Linked DNA regions of Homo sapiens: region 1 is linked to region 2. The links come from fine-mapping of genetic effects on gene expression. A gene starts in region 2. The other region holds a variant in brackets. All regions are shown on one strand. Distances are from middle to middle. Region 1 overlaps ZNF318 (zinc finger protein 318). Region 2 holds the start of DLK2 (delta like non-canonical Notch ligand 2).

Region 1 (5,370 bases), 94 kb before region 2:
CAACTTTAAGTCTGTATATTAAGGTTCTAATAATTCAATTGGGAAAAAAAAGTATCACTATATGGTAACTTTTAAAAAAACTACTGATTTATCTAATTAGCATGATTTTCTCATAAGATTTAGAAGGTTCTCCAATGCTTTGCCTTGATGGTTCACATATTAAAACCCATAAAGCTCTCTCACAGCCTGTTTTGTCACCCTCTTTGCCTTCTCTGGATATCTACAAGCACTCTGCTAATCTTGGGCTTAGAAAAGAGAAAGTGATGGTTTGGTTCACCATATATTTTTATTTCATTAAATACAAAGGTCTCAGACCTTTGTGGCATGAGGTAAAAATCCAGGATGGGACAGCTATTCTTTTAGCTGAGAATTCTATACCACACCCAATAATGCTAACCTTCTCAGGGGCTATGGCTATGACACAAAACTAAAGTTTCTGATTTAAATCACAGATAGAAATAAAGATCCTCTAGCACTTTATGTATGAAAACTTCTAAGTACTCTGAATAAAAAATAAAAGTTCTTACATGTCACTCACATTCCAGAGTGAATTATCATCTAGAGGATGGTAACTATTAGTGTCTTCTACAGTTTCTAGTAGCTACTTTTGTTGTGAGTTTCTAGAAATGACTTTTCCTTAGTTTTTTTAGTAGTTGCTTTCCTATCTCTGAGACTATGCCAGCAGAATCTCAAAACATTGCCTTTTCTTATTCACCAGCCTGCCTTTGATCAAAGTTGTAGACCTAGGAATAAATTTATGAAAGGTTATCAAGGACAAACTTTATTTACCTTCTCTAACAAGAATGCCACCTGTGGGAATCCAGGTTTCTGTTACCCACCTTCTTCCTAAGAATTTGGGAAATTTTGAGGTTTCAATGCAGTATGAAATAGGAATAAATGGGAATAAACCAAGGATGATTTCTGAAATCAAACTGAGGTAAAAATTTTTCTCTATAGGTCTGTCAGCCATAAACACACCTATTTCCAGAGAGGAATGTTCATGAGTTGAGTCACTCCATTGCCAAAACACCATCTACCATACAAAAAGTCTCTGACCATATTAGTATAGGGAGAAAAAACATAGGCTCCATGAGGAGTGGCAAGTTCATTCACACTCCCACATTCAGCTCCCCACCAGAACTATTACATGTCACCATGAAACGGCATACTAGCCCAAGGTCTAAACCAGTACTAACTATCAAGAAGCTACAAATGAGATGGCTCTCAAAAAGCTGTAGTCCAGACTTGGAATCTCCAGTAGAGACAGAAAAAAGGCATAAAAACAGTTTTCTTAAAAAAGCTATCACATACATATAGGCAGAAATCAGGTTGCTTATTAGAAGCTCATGTCCTCCTTCCCCAGGACTCCAAAAGGATATGAGAAGAGAACTGGCTGTAGTAAGAACCCTAAAAAGGGTACAATCTCCTATACCCTGAAAGAGTCCAGCGATGGATACTCCCGGAAAGCCTTGGTTAAGTTCAACTGTTTTCTAAAATAAAGTCTATCTATTTAAAAAAACTGATTGTTGGAGTTAGGTAATAAGGACATGGGGTTTCACTGTACTATTCTACATTTTTGTGTTTACAAATCTCTGTTAAACAAGTTTTTAAAAAATGTATGTATGTCCATATAAAAACTTTTATACCAATGTTCAGAGCAGCATTAATCATAATTGCCAAAAAGTGAAAAGAATCAAAATGTTATCCATTCATTCACCACTGATGAATGGATAAACAAAACATGGTATATCCATACAATAAAATATTATCAGCAATAAAAAGGAATGCTACAAACACGGATGAACCTTAAAAAAAAATATGCTAAGTGAAAGAAGCCAGTCACAAAAGACCACATATTATATGATTCTATTTATATGAAATGTCCAGAACGGGCAAATCTATAGAGACAGAAAGTAGATTAGTGATTGCCTATGGCTGGGGGTAGGGTGGAGGGAGTAATGGCTAAAGGAACAGAGCTTCTTTCTGGTGTAATAAAAATGTTCTAAAATTGATTGTAGTGAGGGATGCACAACTCTGAATATGCGAAAAATCACTGAACTGTACACTTCAAATGGGTGAATTATATAGTATACAAATTACATCTCGATAAAGCTGTTAAAAATGTATACATATTTTAAAAGGTCCTTCAGAGCCTAAACTCTCCATTCTTTTCTGTTGATGAGTCCCAAAAATGCCCCAAGAAAGCTGTTTGCTTCTATTCCCTAAAGAAAATCAGAGGGAAAAAAATCCCACTCCTTCAATCTGTCAGAATAAGGAGAAGAAATTAGGCGATAAGCTGGG[C/A]ACAATGGCTCACACCTGTAATCTTAGCACTTGGAGAGGCCAGGGCAGAAGGATTGCTTGGGGTCAGGAGACTAGCCTGGACAACACAGATAGATAGAAACCCAATTTCTAAAAATTTATTTTTTAATTCACCAGGTGTGGCAGTGCAGCCCATAGTCCTAGCTACTCTTTAGACTGAGCTGGGAGGACCACTTGAGCCCAGGAGTTTGAGGTTACAGTGAACTATGATCACGCCACTGCACTCCAGGCTGGGCAACAGAGCAAGACATTGTCTTTTAAAAAGTTAATAATTTTTTTTAAATAAATAGCTCCATGAATGGAACATTAAATGTGCAAATTACTTTGATGAACAGGAGAAATCAACCTAACATCCACAAGTCTTTAGAAGCCAAGTGTTTTAGAATTTTTCACATTACCTTTCATGTTCCCTTTTGAGTAGAATTACAGTCCTACATACAGGGCTGCTAAGGTGAAGACACTAAAACCCAACTTGGCTATCATCCAAACCTGATATAAAACTTAACAGATTCAATAAAGGAAGAGAAAGACTACTAGAGTCTCAGAAAAAAAATAAACAAACATCTGGCCAGGCATGGTGGCTCATGCCTGCAATCCCATCACTTTGGGAGGCTGAGGCAGGAGGGTCACTTGAGCTCAGGAGTTTGAAACCAGCCTAGGCAACACAGTGAGAACCCCATCTCTACAAAAATTTGAAAAATTAGCTGGGCGTCGGGTGGTGTGTGCCTGTATTCCTAGCTACTTGGGAGGCTGAGGCAGGAGAATCACTTGAACCCAGGAGTTAGAGGCTACACTAAGCTATGATCGTGCCACTGCACTCCAGCCTGGGTGACAAGAGTGAGACCCTGTCTCTTAAAAATAAATTTAAAAGGGGCCAGGCGCGGTGGCTCACACCTGTAATCCCAGCACTTTGGGAGGCCAAGGTGGACGGATCACGAGGTCAGTTCGAGACCAGCCTGGCCAAAGAAACCGCATCTCTACTAAAAATACAAAAAATTAGCCTGGCATGGTAGTCCGCACCTGTAATCCCAGCTACTCAGGAGGCTGAGGCAGGAGAATTGCTAGAACCTGGGAGGCGGAGGTTGCAGTGAGCCGAGATTGCAGCATTGCACTCCAGCCAGGCAACAGTGCAAGACTCTGTCTCAAAAAATAAATAAATAAAAATAAAAAAATAAATGAATTTTTAAAAAATAAACATCTACATACACGTCTTTTTTTTTTTTTTTTTTTTTTTGAGACAGAGTCTTGTTCTGTGCAGTGGCACAATCTGGGCTCACTGCAAACTCTGCCTCCCAGGTTCAAGCTTCTCCTGCCTCAGCCTCTGGAGTAGCTAAGACTACAGGCATGCGCCACCACTGGGTAATTTTTGTATTTTTGGTAGAGACAGGATCTCATCATGTTGGCCAGGATGGTCTCGAACTCCTGACCTCAAGTGATTGGCCCACCTCAGCCTCCCAAAGTGCTGGGATTACAGGTATGAGCCACTGCGCCAGGCCCAAACATCTACATACAAAGGATATAAATGGCCTGTATCATTGGTTGAAGACTAGACTCACTGTCAGGAGACAACCTGAGTATGCCAATGGTCCTGTGGCCTGGTTTTAGTGGACAGTAATTATCCACACAAACCATACTGAACAAAAGGGAAAGAAGAGAAATGTGTAGGGGGCAACAGTATTTTTTAAATGGCCTTGTATCTTTGTTTAGAACCTTAATCTCACTTTCTCTAAAGTAGACCTGTGCCTCTGAAACACATGATTCTACAAAGAAGACTGCTGCCCCAAACTCCTTAAGAGGAAAAATTTTAATTTTTGTAATTTAAAAATATAATTAGTTCTATCTGAAGCACATGTGCATAACAAAGTTTATGCAAAGGGGAAGTGACATCCTAGGCCTAAGAAGAACTGCTGAAGCTAACTCAAAACCTCAGCAAAGAATGAAGACAATCACACTATGTACCACCTACCCAGACTACCTACTCAATAATTTCCCCAAACAGAAGCAGCCAGAAGAGCAAGGGCTATTGCCTCAATTAAGTGATACAGTCACATATCTTGAAGCCCTTTAGAAGCTTCAATGTTATATGACATAAGACTATTTTGCCTTGCTTCTTCTCTGAGAAAACACCAAATGGCAGATGATGTCGGTGGAGGGGGTGGGGCGGGGGCAGAGGCCCCGGGGGCCCTGGGATGGGAAACCGTGGTGGCTTCCATGGAGGGGCTGGGGTTGCAGCTGTGGACAGGGCTGAGGCCACGGAGCTCGTGGAGGCAAGGCCAAGGATAAGGAGTGGATGCCTGTCACCAAGCTGGGCTGCTTGGTTAAGGACATAAAGATCAAGTCCCTGGAGAACTACCTCTTCTTCCTGCCCATCAAGGAATCTGAGATCACTGACTTTTTCCTGGGGGCCTCTCTCAAGGATGAGGTGTTGAAGATTATGCCAGTGCAGAAGCAGACCCACACTGGCCAGTTGAAAAGGTTCAAGGCGTTTGTTGCCATCGGGGACTACAATGGCCACGTCGGTCTGGGTGTTAAGTGCTCCAAGGAGGTGGCCACTGCCACCTGCGGGGCCATCATCCTGGCCAAGCTCTCCATTCTCCCTGTGCACAGAGGCTACTGGGGGAACAAGATCCACAAGCCCCACACCGTTCCTTGCAAGGTGACAGGCTACTGCGGCTCTGTGCTGGTGCACCTCATCCCTGCGCCCAAGGGCACTGGCATCGTCTCAGCCCGTGCCCAAGAAGCTGCTCATGATGGCTGGTATTGATGACTGCTACACCTCAGCCAGGGGCTGCACTGCCACCCTGGGCAACTTCGCCAAGGCCACCTTTGATGCCATCTCTAAGACCTACAGCTACCTGACCCCCGACCTCTGGAAGGAGACAGGATTCACCAAGTCTCCCTATCAGGAATTCACTGACCACCTCATCAAGACACACACCAGAGTCTCTGTGCAGAGGACGTAGGCTCCAGCTGTGGCTACAACATAGGGTTTTTATACAAGAAATATAAAGTGAATTAAGCCTGAAAAAAAAAAAAAAAAAAGACTGTTCT
Region 2 (5,370 bases):
TAAGGGAAAGCAGACCTGTCCCAGGTAGGTGTAGGACTGTGCAGGGTCATAGGACACATATACGGAATCAGACCATCAGACACCAGCACTCAAACCCTGGTTCTGTACTTTAACCTGAGCCTCAGTTTTCTCACCTGTAAATTGGGGATACACCTTGCAGGGTTGAGTAGAGGAAGAAATAAGATGTCTGTAAATGCCTCCAGTACCCCTCCTGGCATGTCTGAGGTGCTCACAAACATTTAAAGAAGAATGACCTTGAAAGGCCATCAGGGCCGGGGCGTGGTTGCTCACGCCTGTAATCCCAGCACTTTGGGAGGTCGAGGCAGGTGGATCACTTGAGGTCAGGAGTTCAAGACCAGCCTGGCCAACTGGGTGAAACCCCGTCTCTACAAAAAATACAAAAAATTACCCGGGCATGGTGGTGTGCATCTGTAATCCATTATTGAGGAGGCTGAGGCAGGGGAACTTGAACACAAGAGGCAGAGGCTGCAGTGAGCTGAGATCGCGCCACTGCACTCCAGCCTTGGCAACAAAGCGAGACTCTGTCTCAAAAACAAAAAATAAAAATAAAAACAAAAAAGGTCATCAGGACTATCCTCCCACCATGATTCCAGGGCAAACACTTGACCCATATTTTAAAAGCCCTCCAGGGGTGAAGAGTCTCAAAGACCCCCAGCCAATTGAACTACCTGCCTCATCAACTCATTTCCTTATGTCCACTTTCCTCCTGCTACAGAATTTGCCCAATCTCCCAGTGAGTCAACTACTCAAACTCATCAAGAAAGATCCTCTTTCATTGTAAGTGTTTCTCCCCAGCAACTCTCCCTGCAGCATTTCTTTTCCAGGCTAAACCATTTCTCTTTCCCTTTTTCCTTTATCTTTCCATTTCCTCATGGCACCCAATCCCCAAGCTCTCTCAAGCTTTAGGTCTCTCTCCCTGTCAGGAGTTCAGACAATCCCTGGATCAGACTTGGGAGATTAAAGAAGTGGGGAGATAAAAACTAGAAGAAGCAAGAGAGGTGAGGTAAAGGGGAAAGGGGGACTGGCCAGTCAGCCATAGGAGTGATGAGGCATGAAGAGTAGAGTCTGAAGCCCCTAGACACTGTTGTGCACGTGAAGGGCTTAGAAATGGGTACCAAAGGGTTTGGGGGCACGTGCTCAGGACAGGTACCTGCAGGAGCCGTCAGGTGCACAGCAGCCGTGGGCCAGGTCACAGTGGGAGCTGCAGTCATCGGCTGCAAGAGATTGATGTGGGAGGGGTGAGTCTGAGTCAGGGCACAGCTCGCTGGGATGCGGGACTCAGGAGAGGATTGGGGTTCCAGTAACTGAGCGGACTCAACCCTAGGGCAGGACATAACACAGAAACTCATCCCATTCCAAAAAGGCAACCTCGGTCTTGCTTGCCCCGCGGGTCGGAGCGACTGCAGTGCCGCCTCCGGCCGGCAGAGGTCAACGTGCAAGCGAGGACGGCTGGACAGGGCCGCGACTGGAGCCCAGCGGGCGCGCTCACCTCGGACAGGCTGACCGGGAGCCCCCAGAATGCACAACAGGCACACGAGATGCAGGCAGCGGCAGCCGCTGGGCATGGTCAGCGCCGGCCCCAGGAGGGACGGACGGATGGACGGCCGGACGCGTGGACACCTGTGGGACGGCACCGGTTGGGAGGCGGCCGGACGCGGAGATAGCGGCACGGATACGGGTTCCAAGTGACAGGAGCCGACGAGGGAGAGGGGCGCCGGGACAGAAGAAGGGGATGGGGGTAGCGGGAGGATGGGGGCAGGGAAGGGTTGAGCAGGCGAAGAGAGCGAGGAGAGCGAAGACAGGAACCCGGGAGCGGGGTCTGCAAGGAGGGGAAAGATGGGCATCGCGGAGCGAGGCCAGGCGCGGGAATGGCTGGGGTTGGGATCGTAGTCAGGACGGAGGGGTCCGCGGGATGGGGACAGCGCCGAGAGGCGGCCTCGAGCACGGAGGGGACGCGGGGGCCGGAGGGAAGGACGGTTCCCGGCAGCGAGCAGTCTCCGCCCCACAGCTCCGACAGCCCCCCCCCCCGCCACCACCACTCTCTCCCACGTCCCCTTTCTATCTCCGCCGCGCTGGGTTCGGCGGCGGCGCGGGGCCTGGAATCCCCACCGCGCCCTGTCCCCGCAGTCCTCACCTCCGGCGGGGAGGTGGCGCGCCCCGGGGCGCAGAGAGAGGCCGGATCCGACGGGCGCCGCCGAGGGGCCGTGAGGGAGCGCGGGGCCGCCCCTAGCTGGCCGCGGGGCCGGGCGCCGAAGCGGCTGCCATGCGAGCCGAGCGCTCGGGAATCTGGGGCTCCAGGCGACCCCGAGCGGCGGCAGCGGCTGCTCCTCGCGCGCGCTCAGGCCCCCTGCCAGGGGCGGAGCCCGCCCCCACCCCCATCCCCCCCCCCGCGACGCACGGCGCACACCTAGCACCCGGCGCGCCCCGGGGCCCCGGCCCTCCGCGGCTACCCAACGCCCCGAACCCAGCTTCCTTCCAAGAGAGGAGGAAATCTTAGGAGTCTCAATGGGAGCAAACTATTAAGCCAAAGGAGCGCAACCCCGTTATTCTCTCATCTCCCATGCCCACTTTCCCGACCAGCGCTCCGCGGCCCACGCCCCAGCCCTGCCTTCGCTTGTCCGCCGCTCATCACGCTTCTCATATAGATCTATGCACACGCAGGCAATCGCTCCCCGCCCTCCGCCTGTCACCAGCCCACGCCTCCCCGCTTGTAAAGCCTTCATCACCTGCTTCATCTGTGTGCTCCTCTGCTCCTCCTCGCCCTCCGCTTCTTCCTGTCCACGTTGCCGTCTCCAGCCTTCCAAGATCAACCTATCCCTATATAAATATCAACCCGATCCACCCAACCACACCCCGGCCCTACCCCCACCACCCTTCCCTCCCTCAAGTCTCAGCCCTTCCACCCCATTCCTTTTTGTGACTGCCTCTGAGAATCCTTTCTGGACTGGGAATGCCCCTGACTCTGTAAATGTGCACACAAAACCCCCTCCACCGCCAAGTCTTCTCCTGTACCCCATCACGTTCGTCCTTGGCCTCAGGCTAAACCTCAACTGCCCAAACCTGGAGCTCAGATTCAGAGAGTAACGGAGGGGGAGTGGGGGAAAGCTGCCCTCCAGGCCTCTTTGCCCCCTTCTGGCTAATGGCTCAGAGACACATTTCAAGACAAGGACCCAGCCAAGCTCGGTGGGCTCACGCCTATAATTCCAGCACTTTGGGAGGCTGAGGCGGGCGGATCACCTGAGGTCAGGAGTTCGAGACCAGCCTGGCCAACATGGTGAAACCCGTCTCTATTAAAAATACAGAAATTAGCCAGGCGTGGTGGTGCGCGCCTGTAATCCCAGCTACTCGGAAGGCTGAGGCAGGAAAATCGCTTGAAAACCCGGGAGGCAGACGTTGCAGTTAGCCAAGATCGCGCCACTGCACTCCAGCTTGGGGGACAGAGCAAAACTCCGACCCCCGCCCCCCCCCAAAAAAAGACAAGGACCCAGAACATAATTTCTAGTTTGTGCAGGACAACAGGGCAGAGGTCAGGAACGCTAGCGCCCATCTCTAGTCCTTCAGATTGAGATTTCACCATCTTTAAATTCAAAACATCGGAAGGAGCAGTCGCTAGTCGGGGCAGAGCAGCTTCCCACCTTCACACAGCCACCTCCACAGGCACAGAGCCCCAGGGCTCATTTTTCCTGCAGTCTCCATTGGATATAACACTTACACCCACTCAGCTCCCTAGCTGGCCTCCTCTCAGCTGTGATCGCCTCTTCCCTGAAGAGCTCTCTGAATTTGAGTAATGACATGGCTGTACCATTCATTTTGTTTAAACACATTTTTTTTTTTGGTGAAAAATTGCAAACAACCTATAATTCAAAAATTACTGTAGGCAAATAAATTATGGCACATCAACACTATGTGACTGTTAAAAATACTTTTTTTTTTTTTTGACGTCTAAAGATGTCCAAAAAAGCTAAGAATATGTAAAGTGCGGTGGGGGGAAGCCGGAAACAAAGAAGAACGTACTTTGACATTGGCAGTGCTTTTCTCTGGATGATCGAATTATAGAGGTTTTTTTTTTTTTCTTATTAATACTTTTCAGCATTAACACTTTTTTTTTTTTTTTTTTTTTTTTTTTTGAGACGGAGTCTCGCTTTGTGGCCCAAGCTGGAGTGCAGTGGCGCTATCTCGGCTCTCTGCAAGCTCCGCCTCCCAGGTTCACGCCATTCTCCTGCCTCAACGTCCCAAGTAGCTGGGACTACAGGCGCCCACCACCCCGCCCGGCTAATTTTTTTTTGTATTTTTAGTAAAGACGGGGTTTCACCATGGTAGCCAGGATGGTCTTGATTTCCTGACCTCGTGATCCGCCCGCCTCGACCTCCCAAAGTGCTGGGATTACAGGCGTGAGCCACCGCGCCCGCCCCTTTTTTTTTTTTTTTAAACAATGAACATCTATAACTTGTTTTTTGTTGTTGTTTGTTTGTTTTTCCTTGAGATTATCACTCTGTCGCCCAGGCTGGAGTGCAGTAGTGCAACCTCAGCTCAGTACAACCTCGTCTCAGCCTCCAGTATAGCTGGAATTGCAGGCACAGCGCCACCACGCCCAGCTAATTTTTTTTTCTCGAGACTTTCAGTGCTTTTCTCTGTCAGATATCATTATCTGACATTATATTAAATATTTATTGTTTATTGACCATCTCCCCACTACAAAGCAAACTCCAGAGGTCTGGGATGTTTTCTTGCTCATCACAGCATCCCCAGTGTCTAAAACAATGCCTGGCATAGTAGGTATTCAATAAATTTTTTTAAAATTCTGTTTGTTTAATTAACTCTTTTTTTTTTTTTTTTTTTTTGAGACAGGGTCTCGCTCTGTCACCCAGGCTGAAGTGCAATGGCTCCATCTTGGCTCACTGCAACCTCCGCCTCCCGGGTTCAAGCAATTCTTCTGCCTCAGCCTCCCGAGTAGCTGGGATTACAGGCGCGCCCCCACCAAGCCAGGCTAATTTTTGTATTTGTAGTGGAGACAGGGTTTCGCCATGTTGGCCAGGCTGGTTTACAACTCCTGACCTCAGGTCATCTGCCCGCTTGGCCTCCCAAAGTGCTGGGATCACAGGCGTGAGCCACTGCCCTCGGCCTGCCCAGTTAATTTTTGCATTTTCAGTAGAGACGGGGTTTCGCCATGTTGGCCCGGCTAGTCTCGAAGTGACCCCAAGTGGTCCACCGGCCTTGGCCTCCCAAAGTGCTAGGGTTACAGGCATGAGTCACCGTGCCCAGCCTAACATTTTTTTAGAATAAAGTAAAAAGAAAAAGGCCAGGTGCGGTGGCTCACGCCTGTAATCCCAACACTTTGGGAGGCTGAGG

The links. PIP is the estimated chance that this variant, and not a neighbour inherited with it, causes the effect.
Region 1: its variant is the best candidate, but not a certain one, in a credible set for the expression of DLK2 in whole blood (INTERVAL, PIP 0.52).

The regions. Positions count from the first base shown.
Region 1 is chr6:43,358,989-43,364,358 of GRCh38, forward strand. All of the region lies in intron 2 of ZNF318 (zinc finger protein 318), which reads right to left. It also overlaps the pseudogene RPS2P28. Among named protein-coding and RNA genes, the nearest start is that of ZNF318, 8.0 kb to the right of the region's middle. The variant C/A (reference allele first, on the strand shown) is at 2,302.
Region 2 is chr6:43,453,240-43,458,609 of GRCh38, forward strand. DLK2 (delta like non-canonical Notch ligand 2) reads right to left here and starts at 2,309. Exons shown (of 6, transcript NM_023932.4): 1 at 2,156-2,309; 2 at 1,511-1,641; 3 at 1,172-1,235. The coding sequence starts at 1,586. RefSeq lists enhancers at 1,288-1,337, 2,966-3,807 and silencers at 1,868-1,947, 1,978-2,027, 2,128-2,367.